Homo sapiens: one gene and its partners. The protein of the gene in region 1 purifies or fractionates together with the protein of each later gene. This does not show direct contact. Each region holds a gene or a part of one and is shown on either strand. Other genes may lie near its edges.

Region 1 (3,500 bases):
GCAGTTAGTAAGCACTTGATAAAGATTAACTGTTATGATCCTTCCTCTGAGAATACCCTCTGTCTCCACATTCCTCCTTTAAACCCAGCTCCTGCAGGATGCTTTTTGACCAACCTATTGAGGTCATTAAAATAATTCCTGCATTTCCCCTCTGATACATAATCATCAAGTATTGGTTACTTATATGTTCTCTTCAAAGGTTCATACACATTTTTCTTATTCTGGCCATAAAATTATTAGTTTGTGCAACTACAACTCGACAAATGTGTTTGGAGTAGCTCCTGATTGCGCTGCTATGCTGGGTATCTTAGGTACTATAAAAGAAATAAAACACATAGCCCCTTCTTTCAAGAAATTTAAAGTTTCATCTAGGTAGGCCGAATTTTTCTGGAACTTTATGCCAAGTCTACCAACTGCACTAATGAGGTTTTGGTAAAATGTTTATATTTTTCTGGATTATTGTATAGTAATGATTTCTTTCACTGTATTATGATAAAGTAACAATTCATTATTCCTGCTTATTAGTGAAAATTCAAAATAGTCTAGAGATTTCTTATAGTATATCCATTTATATGTGTTTATGAGAGCATATGATGTATGTATATGAGTATGTTACAGGGTTTCTTAACAAAAAGTTAAAATAACTCTACAAGTGATCCAAAAGGATTAATTTACCTCCTTGTATAATTCCAGGAAACAATCTGAATAATAGTAGCCTTAAGAATTTTTACAGCATTTATAGCTTTATGAGTAAAAAGAGGTTCTACAATACTAAAACCCAACAGAAAATTGGATGGTAGCTTCCTTATCTGAATTTCTGGTAGAATTACATAAAATGTGAGTGAAATTTTGCTAGCCTCTAGCTTGCTTCATTATTATTAGAACAAGAAATTCTATTTGTCTTTCATCATCACCATTAACAGGAATTGTACTCTGTAAAAAATGCTGATTAGCATTGGAAATATAAAAAAGAATAAGACAGTTTCTGCCCTCGGATATTTTGTATTCAACTCGGTCAAACTGGACAAGGTCATGAACTCATCAAGGTTAGGAATTATATCATCTCCATCTTTGTACACCCTGTGTCCAGCACGATGTTTGGAATATGAGTGATGGTCAATATTCTTTGTTGAATGAGTGAATGAACAAAAAATTACAATACAAGGTACATGTGGAGGAAATAGTGTGCTACAACAAGTATCAGAAAAAGGAGAAATCAATTTTGAGTAGGATCAGTTGGAACTAGAGTTAGGACTTTAACTGACCCTTGAAGAAAGTGGCTTAAACAGAAAAAGATTAAGAGATTGGAGTAAGTTCAAGGGCTGGTGAACAGAGCAGTGAGCTAAAGGAGGTTTTCTAGGGAGGAAGCAGGAAGTAAGATTCTAAACTGATGGGAAATGGGAAGGTTCTGGCTTAGCCAGGGAGTTAAGACCTAATTCTATGGAAGATAAATGGCAGTAAAGGCTTTTTGAACAAGTAGTTGATAGATGCAGAAGAGTGTTTTAAGAAGATTCATGTGGAATTGCAGTGAGAAGGGATGGAGGCAAGAAGTCAAGGCTAATGATGATGAGGACCTGTGGGTGAAGGGCAGTAACAGGGATAGGATACAAGGGGTAGATATGACAGATGTTACAAAGGAGGAACTTAGCCTGTGACTGGCTGGATTTGAAGGGACAGAAAGAATGAGGAATCCAGGATGACTTCCCAGTTTTGAGCCTGAGTGGCTATGGAAATAATGAGTCCTCTTACAGAAGGAGGGGCACTCCAAAGGGAGTCCGTCTGTGGTCAAAGAGCAATTTCATTGCAGTCATGTTGCATTTGAGGTGGCAGTGGAAGATCTTAGTAGAGGCAGTTTATAGATGCACAGCTGACTGTGAAAATTTCAAGAAGGAATTGAAATAGATTTTTTTTTTGAGACAGGGTCTCACTCTGTCACCCAGGCTGAAGTGCAGTGACTCAGTCACAGCTCACTGTAGACATGACTTCCCAAGCTCAAGCAATCCTCCTGCCTCAGCTGCTGGAGTAGCTGGGACTACACATGTGCCACCATGCCTGGCTTATTTTTTAATTTTTTGTAGAGATGGAGGTCTTGCTATGTTGCCCAGACTGGTCTTAAACACCAGTGTGGGTAAACTGTTAGAATCATTGAGGGAAAAAATTGTTTGGCATTATCTACTTAGCTAAAGATATACCCAACAGAAATGAGTGTACATGTGCATCATGAGGCACTACAAGAATGTTCATAGAAGTGTTGTTTGTAATAGCCCAAAGGTGTAAACAACCCGGAACTCCAAAAAACAAAAGAATGGAAAAATAAATTGTGGTATACTCACACAATACTGCAGAAATCAGCAAATACCCTTAAAGGGTTGGATGGTAAATATGAGGTCTCTGTCACAACTATTCAACTCTCCTGTTGTAGCGCTAAAGCAGCCATAGACAATATATAACAAAACAGACCACAGGCCACAGTTCGCCAACTCTTAGCACACTGCAGTGGAAACAGAGGAACTACAATTACACAAGATGAATTCCACAAGCATAATATTGAGTGAAGACAGACACACAAGTCCATGCTATATGCTTCCCTTTATATGCTCAAACGGAAGTATAGTGTTTAGGGCTGCATTCTGGGAAGTAAACTAAGAAGAAAGGCAAAAAAAAGTCATTATCATAAAAATCAGGGTATTACGGAGGGGACAGGAGCATTGTGATGGGAAAGGGTAAAGGCTTCTGAAGTGCTGGCTATTTTCTAATTTTTGAATGGATAGTGGTTACCCTAGTGCAGGGGTCCCCAGCCCCCAGGCTGCAGACTGGTACTGGTCTGTGGCCTGTCACGAACAGGGCCACACAGCCAGAGGTGAGCAGCAGGCCAGTGAGCATTACTGCCTAATTAGCAACGGCATTGGATTCTCATAGGTTCTCATAGGAGCATGTATTGTGAACTGCGCGTGCAAGGGATCTAGGTTGCAAACTTCTTATGAGAATCTAACTAATGCCTGATGATCTGAAGTGGAACAGTTTCATCTCAAACCGTCCACTCCCCACCCACATCTGTAGAAAAACCGCCTTCAATGAAACCAGTCCCTGGTGCCAAAAAGTTGGGGACCGCTGTCCTAGTGTTAGTAGTTTTAAGCATGTTTTGTGTCTTTTTCTTTTATATGTTACATTTCCACTCACCCCAACCCCAAAAAAATTTGAAAAAAAAAAAGGCTGAATAGGAAGTGAGTAGGGATAAGGCAAACATGGCTGAAAGACAAGATATACAAATACTCAGAAGAGAGAAAACTCTGTGGTCTGTCTGGAAACTGAAAATAAAACAGAATGGTAGGAATGTAGCATATTAAGAAGATAGCAGTGAAACATAAGACTTCAGGAGTTTGGTCATAATTTGGTCCTTCATATATCTGCCTATAACCATGAAATACATAGTTCAATAGAATTTTATTGTATTTTAAAACTGCAGTTAGGAAGAACCAAAACAGTGAGTAGATAATCAC
Region 2 (3,500 bases), about 140 Mb from region 1:
TTAAAGTTATCCATGCAGGATGAACAGAGAAGCCTTCAAGTAGTAATGAGGACTTCTTAGATAAGCAAATAATTAAAATAGAATTTTCTGCATTTAGAACAGTTTTTGGTCTTAACATACTGAAATAATATAAAATTCACCTAATGAGCCAGGTGCGGTGGCTCACACCTGTAATCCCAGCACTTTGTGAGGCCGAGGTGGGCAGATCACCTGAGGTCAGGAGTTACAGACCAACCTGGCCAACATGGTGAAGCCCCGTCTCTACTAAAAGTACAAAAATTAGCCTGGCATGGGGGCGCATGCCTGTAATCCCAGCTACTTGGGAGGCAGAGGCAAGAGAATCACTTGAACCCAGGAGGCGGGGGTTGTAGTGAGCTGAGATCGTGCCACTGCATTCCAGCCTGGGTGACACAGTGAGACCCCATCTCAAAAAAAAAAAATACACACATATGTATATTTATATATAATATATATTTATATATAATATATATTATATATATTTATATATAATATATAAATTTATATATTATATATTATATATTTATATATAATTATATATAAATTATATATATTATATATAATATATATAAAAATACACATTAGATGAAATATATATATATATTTTGTCTAATCATGTTCTTATCCTAAATTGTGAGGCATTTTATTTTATTTATTTTTATTGTTGAGACAGAGTCTCAGGCCAGAGTGCAGTGGCGCGATCTCTGCTCACTGCAACCTCCACCCCCCCAGTATCAAGCAATTCTCCTGCCTCAGCCTCCTGAGTAGCTGGGACTACAGGCGTGCACCAGCACGCCTGGCAAATTTTTTGTATTTTTAGTAGAGACGGGGTTTCTCCATATTGGCCACGCTGGTCTCCAACTCCTGACCTCGTGATCCGCCTGCTTCGGCCTTCCAAAGTGTTGGGATTACAGGCGTGAGCCACCACGCCTGGCCTGCAAGGCATTTTATAACTATTTGAACCTGAATTTTAAAAAATATATTATTCACTTATTTATTCATTCATTTACTCAAAAAATATATTGAATGCTTTGTATGAGGCTCTGTTTAGGCTCTGAGTATGATAGTAAAAGCAAGTCTTTGCCCTTATGGAGCTTACAATAGTTGTCAGTTTGACAAAATAAGGAAGCAGGCTATGGCAGACAATTGTTAGACTGATAAAAGATTGACATGGTTTACTAAGCATTTCTAAATAAAGCTTGAAAGTAAATTTGGCTGTTCATATAATTAGCACACAGTCAACAAATGTTATTACTCATGAAGTATTAATCTCAATTCTATTATTGAAATCTCAACACCCCATTTACTCCAAAAGCAGGTGCAGTTAATAACCAAAGCAGGCCACAAAGCCACAGCAGTGGAGAATTTAGCCTGCTTCATGACCATGAGGCTTGGTCCAGCAGTGGTAGCAGTCCAATCCAGTACTTGAAAAGACAGACCAGATCAAGCCCAGTGCTCCAGCACAAAATATCTGAAACACTGGAGAGTCGACATCACAAGATCAAAACTGGTTCCCCTGGAAGTGAAGTTGTTACTCTACAACAGTTTTTGGAAGAAAGCAATAAGCTTACCTCAGTACAGGTTAGTTTTATCTATGATGACCTTAATTTAGATGAACACCACAAGTTAAATTTCTGTAATTGAACTTCAGAGCTTTTTTTTTTTGGTAAGTTAAGGAGTATTAAGAGGTACCACAATTTTATATTGCACAGTCTGCTAAATCAGGAAAGTAAAAACATGGCACTATATTCACTAATCTGCTTTGAATTTTTTTTTAAACAGATAAAGTCCTCAAGTCAAGAGAATCTTTTAGATGAAGTAATGAAAAGTTTGTCTGTCTCTTCTGACTTTTTGGGAAAAGACAAACCAGTTAGCTGTGGTCTGGCCAGGTCAGTAAGTGGAAAAACCCCAGGGGACTTCTATGATAGACGGACAACTAAGCCTGAGTTTTTGAGACCTGGTCCTCGAAAAACTGAAGATACCTACTTCATTAGTTCTGCGGGAAAACCTACACCAGGCACTCAAGGAAAAATAAAATTAGTAAAAGAATCTTCTCTGTCACGACAATCAAAAGATAGTAACCCTTATGCAACTTTACCTCGTGCAAGCAGCGTGATCTCAACTGCCGAAGGAACTACACGAAGGACAAGCATCCATGATTTTTTGACCAAGGACAGTAGACTGCCTATATCAGTTGATTCACCACCAGCTGCTGCTGACAGCAACACCACTGCAGCATCTAGTGAGTACCATTTACACCAGTGGTCCTCTCATATACTTGACATCCCAACACATACTATAGGTTCTTGTGCCCAAAATGATTTAGCTATAGACATGCCTGAGCCTCTATATGCCCAGGCTAGAAACTCAAGAACAGGAAGGTCACATTTTCTAAACCAAACTTTTGCCACTATTAGGATGCCTAGTGATGCATTCGGAATGTTGGCAAAAGATAGCATAGGACCATTTACTGTGGCCCATTCATCTCAGCCATTCTTATCCCTGAATACAGAATTAGTTAGTAACATAAGTGGGTTACCTCCTAGGCCAGTTATCAGAATAACTGACCAGGCTTCTGCCTCTTTGGATAAACCTGCACAGAAAGAAAATGAACAGTTTTCTGATCATCAGAACCCTAGTAACAGTAACCTACAGTTTTCTATAAATAGCAACAATCTTGTCACTTCTGCATGCCTCTATCCTGATGACACAGAAGCTGCATTGTTGGTTTCTGAGGATAATCAAACTGTTTGGTATGAATATGGTTGTATATGATCAAAACTGCACAATATAATATATTGATGTTATTTGATATACACTGCTTCTCTAATATGATTTGAAAAGTTGCTGTTAACAAAATATCATTTGGCTAGGTTTTTATTTTTTATTTAAAATTGTTGCACAGTGTTCAGCTGTACATGATGGCATGTATATTAATGTGAATGTGTAACCACACCAAAACCTGCATGAAATATTAATTACTTTGTCCATTTTCTGCATGCCTTTAAAAACCTTAACCATACATGCTCCTCCTTCACATTTTTTGTTGCCTGATAAGATTGTTACTTTGATATCCAGAAGCATGTTAAAACAGTTGCATGCTCTCTTACCAAGAAGACATTTCCAAGTCATATTTGCTTTGTTGCTTCTGGAAAAAAATGTTCATTTCCTCCCTCCCTTCCTCCTCTTCCCACCCCTCACTTGCTCTGACTGTCACTCCTTTTTTTCTTCCAGAATGTGTACTTTATATTACATATGTACAGTATCAGTAGGGAAAATGTAAAAAGATGTTGTTTTCTTTTGTCATTTAATTAGGCCATCTGTCCTGTTTTAAAGAAATAGTTAATAATTCAACACTTTATATAACAAATATTAACTAATACCCATATTTATAAAACATTTTTCAGATTTAAAAGATTGTTAATACTTATAAACTTAGTGTTATTCTTAGAAAACCCCATCAAATTTAAATGTGATTTACA
Region 3 (3,500 bases), on another chromosome or scaffold:
CTGTTTGGGACAGAAATTTGCAAGGATCCATTCTGTGTTGCTATGATTACTGCCAGCTCCTTTTCCATGTCATCACCTTTCTAGATCCTGATTGGTCTTGATTTTGAGATGATACAGAAGTAGTCCTTTAATCATTTCATCATTATTCACCTCACATTTAGCAAGTTTATTGCCAGAGACAAGATACTCGCTGGCAAGATTGTCAGGGTTTATTTGATTTTGAGGAGAGTTGGGCAAGTGGTCATTTGTATGGAATTACTTTTTAGAAGGCTGTTATTACTACTAAAGTCTTACTATTTAGCTTCCCAGCTTAAGCTCCAGTGGGGGCTTCAGTGCCTCATCGGGTAAAGGCCACATTCCAGCCTGGAATATGCAGTCTGGCCACACTCGTTCATAGCCTCATCTGTTCCCACTCTCCCCCACCCCACCCACCCTTACAGTATGAAACCCATTTGCTATTCATCGAAGGAGTTTTTCTTCTTCTTTTTTTTTGGAGACAGAGTCTTGCTCTGTCACCCAGGCTGGAATGCAGTGGCGCAATCTCGGCTTACTGCAACCTCCGCCTCCCGGGTTCAAGCGATTCTCCTGCCTCAGCCTCTCGAGTAGCTGGGACTACAGGCGTGCACCACCACGCCCGGCTATTATTTGTATTTTTAGTAGAGATGGGGTTTCACCATGTTGGCCAGGCTTGTCTCGAATTCCTGGCCTCAGGTGTTCTGCCCGCCTCGGTCTCCCAAAGGGCTAGGATTACAGGCGTGAGCCACTGTGCCCGGCCAGAAGTTTTCTTCTTTCACACTTCTAGTGCCTTTCTCCTGCTTGTTCACCTGACAAAATTCTCCCTTTCCCTTAAGAGTCTTTTCGAGCATTATCTCTGGGACACCCTTCTCTAATACCCTGAAGCAATTTAGGGGTCTTTCCTCTTTGGTCTCAGAGTACCTGGTTAGTACCTCTAGCAGATACCACATGGTACTATAACTGTTTACCAGTAGGCCCTTGATTAATACTAGCCTGGTGAGTGATTTTGGATATCAATGCTTGTTTCTTTTTGGCAGATCCCCTAGACCCTTCCTTCCCAGTGGAGTTTGTAAGACATGGAGACATTATTCGACTAGAACACAAAGAGTAAGTCAATTTGCAGTTTGGATAAATAAATGGTACGGGCACCAAGGGGAGGGAGTTATTTTAAGAAGTAAACAGAAGTTAGATTTTGATGAGGCTCTGGTCAATGGAGCAAGGCCACAGTGCGAGAATGGGAGAAGCATTTTATGAAGGTGATGAAATTGCAGGCCAGCCTTTGCCTGCCTTCTGGGGACCTTTCAATTTCCCATTTCCTAGAGGAAAATTTGAGTTGCTGAAAGCTGCTGCTGCTGTTTTTTTTTGAGACAGAGTCTCACTATGTTACCCAGGCTGGCCTCAGAGTCCTGGGCTCAAGCGATCCTCCCGCTTCAGCCTCCCAAATGGTTGCTATTACAGGCATGAGCCATCACACCCAGCTCCCAAAGCTTCTTCTTAAGTGGCTGCCTTTAGAAAGACGTAGGAGTCTGTTTCTGAGAATATGGCAAGCTAGCTTATTTAACCAGTGTTCTCACTGAAAATGACTAAAAATGCTGGAATAATATAAAGACTTCTTAAGAGCATAAAAAGGCTGACAAGATATTAAAGAGTTACCAGGCCAAAGCCTAAGTGAAATGAGGAATCCAGAGAAATAAGTGAGACACTGAAGCCACTTTTGCTTTGATCCCACAATCTTGACTTTTGGCTGTCTCTTGAGAGAAGAGGTTTTAAAGTCAAACCTAGGCTCACCCAAAGTGGTAAATTTATTAAGTTATCCTTCCCCATATTTGGAACCCCCAAAGGCTTGGGGTAAGGGTAAATCTGCCCTATCCACTTATGCCCAGGTCCACTTTAGGACCCAGCTAAGTGTTGGGGGTTGGGTGGTGAACTGTCCTTAGTTCCTGAGAAGTTGGAACTACCATTTGATCCTCACATGAACTTGGAGCTCAAATTCATGTTGCCTGGGTGATCTCAGAATCTCCAAGACATGAATTTAAATGAACATGATCCTAGATTGGTCGTGTCTCCTAGGTGCATGGCTAAAAGCAAATGTAAGCCCTCTTTGGGGAAAGTCGTTGTCATTTGTTCCCATAGTTTTTTAGTGACAATAGTACACACCCAAAAGTAACAAAGCACACAAGGAAATAGGGCACTGTGTGCAAGAACAAGCTGAAACGACAGACAGCAGGAGCAGCCCCGTAAACATTTCATAGACTGGAATTATCGGATACAAATTTTTAAAAATCAGAGGTGTGTATGTGTGTGGGTATATATATATATATATAGAGAGAGAGAGAGAGAGAGAGAGAGACAGAGACAGAGAGAGAAGCAATTAGCTATGGTTTTTTTTTGAGTCAGCTGGATTTTGAATACTTAAAATTTTTATTTTATTAAATAAATTTCATTTGTCATTAATAAAAATTTATTGTAATTAAATTTTACTTTTGCAAATTTTCAGAAATTTTATAATGAACATTTATTATTTGTTCCAGATAAAAGTGAGAGTTGTTATATAAAACTAAATAAAAGCTAAATTAAACCCCTCTCATCCTCCACAGATGTCCACTTAAAAAAATCTGGCGATGGGAGCAGAAAGAGTAAGTGGCAGTGAGGAGGTTACCTAGCTCAGGCCATGCAGATTACAAGTTTTAATTTTTCCTCTCCTCAAACCTGCCTCCTAAGTCAGGCAAGCTAAGTGCTTCAAAGCTACTAAATGTGTGAAAGTCGCCCCCCACCTCCCTGCCAGCACCTAAAGTTAGCCCCTTTCTTGGCATGCCGTCCAGTGCTCCTACCATCTGTCTCTCCTGGTTTGGGCTCATCTCTTCTCCAGTTCTCAGGATATTTCTTGTGAGTAAATAGGAAACCAGTTCCTGATATGTTGGATTTAATAGTTCAGATTCTAATTTTTCTTATCCTGACAGTTGACTCTGAACATCCTTGGTAAAAGAAGAAATGTTGCACATCATCTTTCTATAGGATAATGACACTTCTCTTTTCTAACTTCTAGAACTTCCCGGAACTTGCACAGTCACTATCATGAGGCCCCCATGACCCGGAAGCACTATCAGGTCACCGGCTATGGCATAGTAAGTAAGCAACGGGGATGTGAGTAGGACGTAAAAGTTATGGGCCTTGGCTCAGGGCTGTGTGGTGGGATATCTCCTCCCCAGAATTCTGGAATGTTCCTGAGGATAAGAGGCTGCACAGGGACTCTCTTAACATTTGGGCACTTTTTGGCTAGGCCTGCTCTGGGAAAAGCAGCCTATGAAGTCTGTTTGTCTCCATCTCTCTCCTCACATAATAACCATGCCATTTACATGCTCTGATACTTAATAAATGTCAAATATGAATACTATTTGGATCTCTTTTAAAATCACATTGGACATAGAAGCCAAGGACCCACAATATGACCCCAGATGAACAACATGTATGTTTATCTTTTGCCA
Region 4 (3,500 bases), on another chromosome or scaffold:
TCATTATAGTCATTGTAGTTCTATTTTTATAAGACTGGGCTCTACTTTGCCATTTTAAGCTAAACTGATGCACAGTTAAGCATTATTAGTTGAAATATGCTGTGATCTCAATTCCTATTTAAATTGTAAGGTCTTCTAATAGATGGTGTTGTTGGAGTTCAGATACACATGAATTTCATTTTGCTAGAAATTTGCTCCTTTTAATGTTGGGGACTTAAAAGACACCCAAGGAAAAGAAGTCATCCAAAGATATAATAATGAGAACCGGAAAAGTATTTTGTTAAATTTGTATGTGTCATTAAGATAGGACCTTTATGATTTTGATGTTAAACAAATGTAAGATAAACAGCTTACAAAAACTGTGGCCATCTTGGATTGTGCTGTGAGACTTCCAAGCAGAGACAAAAAGACTTTCACCTGCCTCCAGCTGGACTTCAGAACTTCGTTTCCTTAGGGTTCTTGACAGTGTTTGTATGAAACAAACCCTGTTCTGTGCTGTGTACGATGAGTAAGCTTCCCAAGTTAAAATTATTGCTCCACACCACAGATTTCAGATTCCAAGTGGAACAGAAGTCCAAAGTTGCTGTTTATAAACTTCTAAGGGTCGATTGTACCTTTCAATGGTGTCCACCCTGTGTTGACATACAGCAAAACCGAAGGGCTCTTGAAACTTCTAACCACTTTCTGAATTACAGCGAAGAATATTCTTTGCATGGTATCAAAGTTCTACAATGTCTCAGTAATTTTACATATTGAAAAAAGTCATTGATTTCCATATTCAGTCCTCTGCGCTGTCTTCTCATTTCAAGTAGTCTCATGTTCCATGTATTATTACGTTATTTGAGGAATTAAAAAAAAAAAAAAAAGAACTGGGGAATCTCCAAGAGCTGGCGGGAATATTGGCTTTGAGAAAGGAACCTTAGAATTCAAACGTAATGTTTTACCTAAAAAGGAGTCCAGTTTCCAACACTTGGGCTGGGAACGACAGGCTATGGTTGCCCAGGATCTGAAGTACAGAGGAAATTGCTTGTCCTTCTGGTGGGAGAGTTTGTCTCTAGAGGATCAGGAGGATCAGGAGGGTCAGGAGAAGGGCAGGGTGTGGCCGGGAGGAAGGGGCATGGTTAGAGATTTCTTTTCTTGATCATTTTCATCCCAGTTCAGCACTGAGTTCAGATTTCCCTTCCTTCCTTCCTTCCTTCCATCTGTCCTTCCTTCCTCCTTTCCTCCCTCTCTCCCTCCCTCCTCCCCCTGTCCCTCTCCTTCCTCCTTCCTCCCTCTCCCTCTCTGTCTCTCCCCCCTACCTTCCTTCCTTCCTTCCTCCCTCGCTCCCTCCCTCCTTTTTTCTTTTCTTTTCTTTCTCTCTGTCTCTCTCCCTTTCTCTTTCTCTCTCCTTCTCTCTCTCTCCCTCCTTTCCCTTCCCTTCCCTTCCCTTTCCCTTCCCTTCCCTTCCTTTCCCTTTCCCTTTCCCTTTCCTGACAGAGTCTTGCTCTTGTCACCCAGGCTGGAGTGCAATGGCGCGATCTCAGCTCACTGCAACCTCCACCTCCCAGGTTCAAGCGATTCTCCCTCCTCAGCCTCCCGAGTAGCTGGGATTACCTGCCATCATGCCTGGCTAATTTTTGTATTGTTGTAAAGACAAGGTTTCACCGTGTTGGCCAGGCTGGTCTCTTAACTCCTGACCTCACGTGATCTGCCCACCTCGGCCTCCCAAAGTGCTGGGATTATAGGCGTGAGACACCACTGCCGATCCTCTCTCTTTCTTTCTCTCTCTCTTTCTCTTTCTTTGTTTTCTCTCTCTCTCTTCTTTCCCTCCCCTCCCCTTCCCTTCCCTTCTCTGCTGTGTTTCCATTCTAGAAGTTCTTTCCTTCATCCCCTCGTTGCTCCTGCAGAGCATTTACTCTGACAGTGCCCCCCACCCAAGGCTCGTGGCTGCCTGGCTGTTGGATGACAGTAATGCATGCACTGCACGTCTCCCCCAGAGGAGTAATGCCGGGGACCATTTGTAGATGGATGGGAAACTGAAGCAAAGCGTGCTTCAATTTAGATTCCCCAAACTGCCAGAGCCCCAATAAAACTAGACAACTGTTGTTACCTTTAACAGAGGGTTTGCTTCTATTTTCATGTGTAACACACAAGCCCATGGCCTTGACTGGGCTTGGAGGAGGATTGTTAGTGTTTAGGTATTGTAGTCTCTGAGGCAGATGCACGTGCGTCTGCTCAAGTTTAACATCAGCAGCCGCTCTCTCATATTCTGTGTCTGTCTTTGCTGTCGTAGAATCCCAGTGTTCCAATGCAGAAGTTGCAGGATATCCAGAGAGCAATGGAGCTGCTATCCGCATGCCAGGGCCCAGCCAGGAACATTGATGAGGCTGCAAAGCACAGATACCAGTTTTGGGACACACAACCGGTACCAAAACTAGGTAAGTTTTTCTGCTTTTCTCTTTTTTTCCCCACAAACAAAGCTGGATGAACAACAACAACAACAACAACAACAACAACAAAACACAAAGAGTGTTAACTTCACATGTATCATTTATTTCATACCACAGATTGGAAATCTATGCAAGACTAATATTTTTCTTCTGAAAATATAAATATTAGATAGTGACATTGGCTTTTGATAACCATTATTTTAGTCCAATTTCTATCCCAATAAAAACATCCAATTTCCCCACACTTGAAACATTACTAGTATTATTATTATTTTTGAGATAGGGTCTCACTCTATCACCCAGGCTGGAGTGCAGTGGCATGATCATAGCTCACTGCAGCCTCCACCTCCTGGGCTCAAGTGATCCATCCTCCCATGTCAGCCTCCCATGTATCTGGGACCACAAGTGCACACCACCACACCTGGCTAATTTTTGTATTTTTTTGTAAAGACGCTGTTTCAGTATGTTGCTTGGGCTGGTCTCGAACTCCTGGGCTCAAGTGATCCACCTGCCTTGGCCTCCCAAAGTGCTGGGTTACAGGTGTGAGCCACCGCACCTAGCCCATTAGAGTATTAAAAATGTATATAAGGTTCTGTGATGGAAGGACCAGGCCCTGAAGGTCCCTCATGGAGCAGGTGTCTGTTGAGTGTCTGTTATTAAATGCCAGGCATAGTCCAGGGCACACACCTGGAAACAGTGGTGGAAAAGTAGGACAAAAGGTGGCCAGGCTGGGGAGGAGCGGCCACACTGAGGTAGAGAAAGGCTTTAGTTAAGCAACAGATGCTGGGAGAAAGTGACGTGTGATGCGTAAGCTTCTGTCGGGAATTCCAAGGGGCCCGTCCCTTGAGGACCAGAGGGCCTCAAGCCTAAGGAAGGCACCAGGAAGGCCCTGAGCTGAGGCCTGCCCCGGTCATCATGGCCAGAGCACTGGGAGCAGGGGGCAGGGAGGGTGTGGAGAGGGGCCGAGGCAGGCAGCAGCCATGGGGAAGAGCCTGGGTTTTAGTCCTACCATGTTGGGAAGCTCTGCAGAGAAGGACTTGGAAAACTCTTCTTGGTGGAAATCACTAG

What was found. The genes of interacting proteins can lie anywhere in the genome.
Region 2: the proteins of RFTN2 (region 1) and CCDC88A purify together in Homo sapiens (affinity purification with mass spectrometry; 2 studies listed by BioGRID and IntAct, with this or other methods). This does not show direct contact.
Region 3: the proteins of RFTN2 (region 1) and POMT2 purify together in Homo sapiens (affinity purification with mass spectrometry; 2 studies listed by BioGRID and IntAct, with this or other methods). This does not show direct contact.
Region 4: the proteins of RFTN2 (region 1) and NMT2 purify together in Homo sapiens (affinity purification with mass spectrometry; one large-scale study listed by BioGRID and IntAct). This does not show direct contact.

What each region holds. Positions count from the first base shown.
Region 1 is NC_000002.12:197,669,088-197,672,587, reverse strand, and holds part of RFTN2 (raftlin-2), read left to right. Parts: intron 1-3,500. UniProt on the Homo sapiens protein: Upon bacterial lipopolysaccharide stimulation, mediates clathrin-dependent internalization of TLR4 in dendritic cells, resulting in activation of TICAM1-mediated signaling and subsequent IFNB1 production.
Region 2 is NC_000002.12:55,294,357-55,297,856, reverse strand, and holds part of CCDC88A (girdin), read left to right. Parts: intron 1-1,333; coding exon 1,334-1,599; intron 1,600-1,800; coding exon 1,801-2,260; intron 2,261-3,500. UniProt on the Homo sapiens protein: Bifunctional modulator of guanine nucleotide-binding proteins (G proteins). Acts as a non-receptor guanine nucleotide exchange factor which binds to and activates guanine nucleotide-binding protein G(i) alpha subunits.
Region 3 is NC_000014.9:77,286,384-77,289,883, reverse strand, and holds part of POMT2 (protein O-mannosyl-transferase 2), read left to right. Parts: intron 1-1,052; coding exon 1,053-1,122; intron 1,123-2,612; coding exon of another isoform or gene 2,613-2,651; intron 2,652-3,061; coding exon 3,062-3,140; intron 3,141-3,500. UniProt on the Homo sapiens protein: Transfers mannosyl residues to the hydroxyl group of serine or threonine residues. Coexpression of both POMT1 and POMT2 is necessary for enzyme activity, expression of either POMT1 or POMT2 alone is insufficient.
Region 4 is NC_000010.11:15,134,194-15,137,693, reverse strand, and holds part of NMT2 (glycylpeptide N-tetradecanoyltransferase 2), read left to right. Parts: exon of another isoform or gene 1-2,275; coding exon 2,276-2,420; intron 2,421-3,500.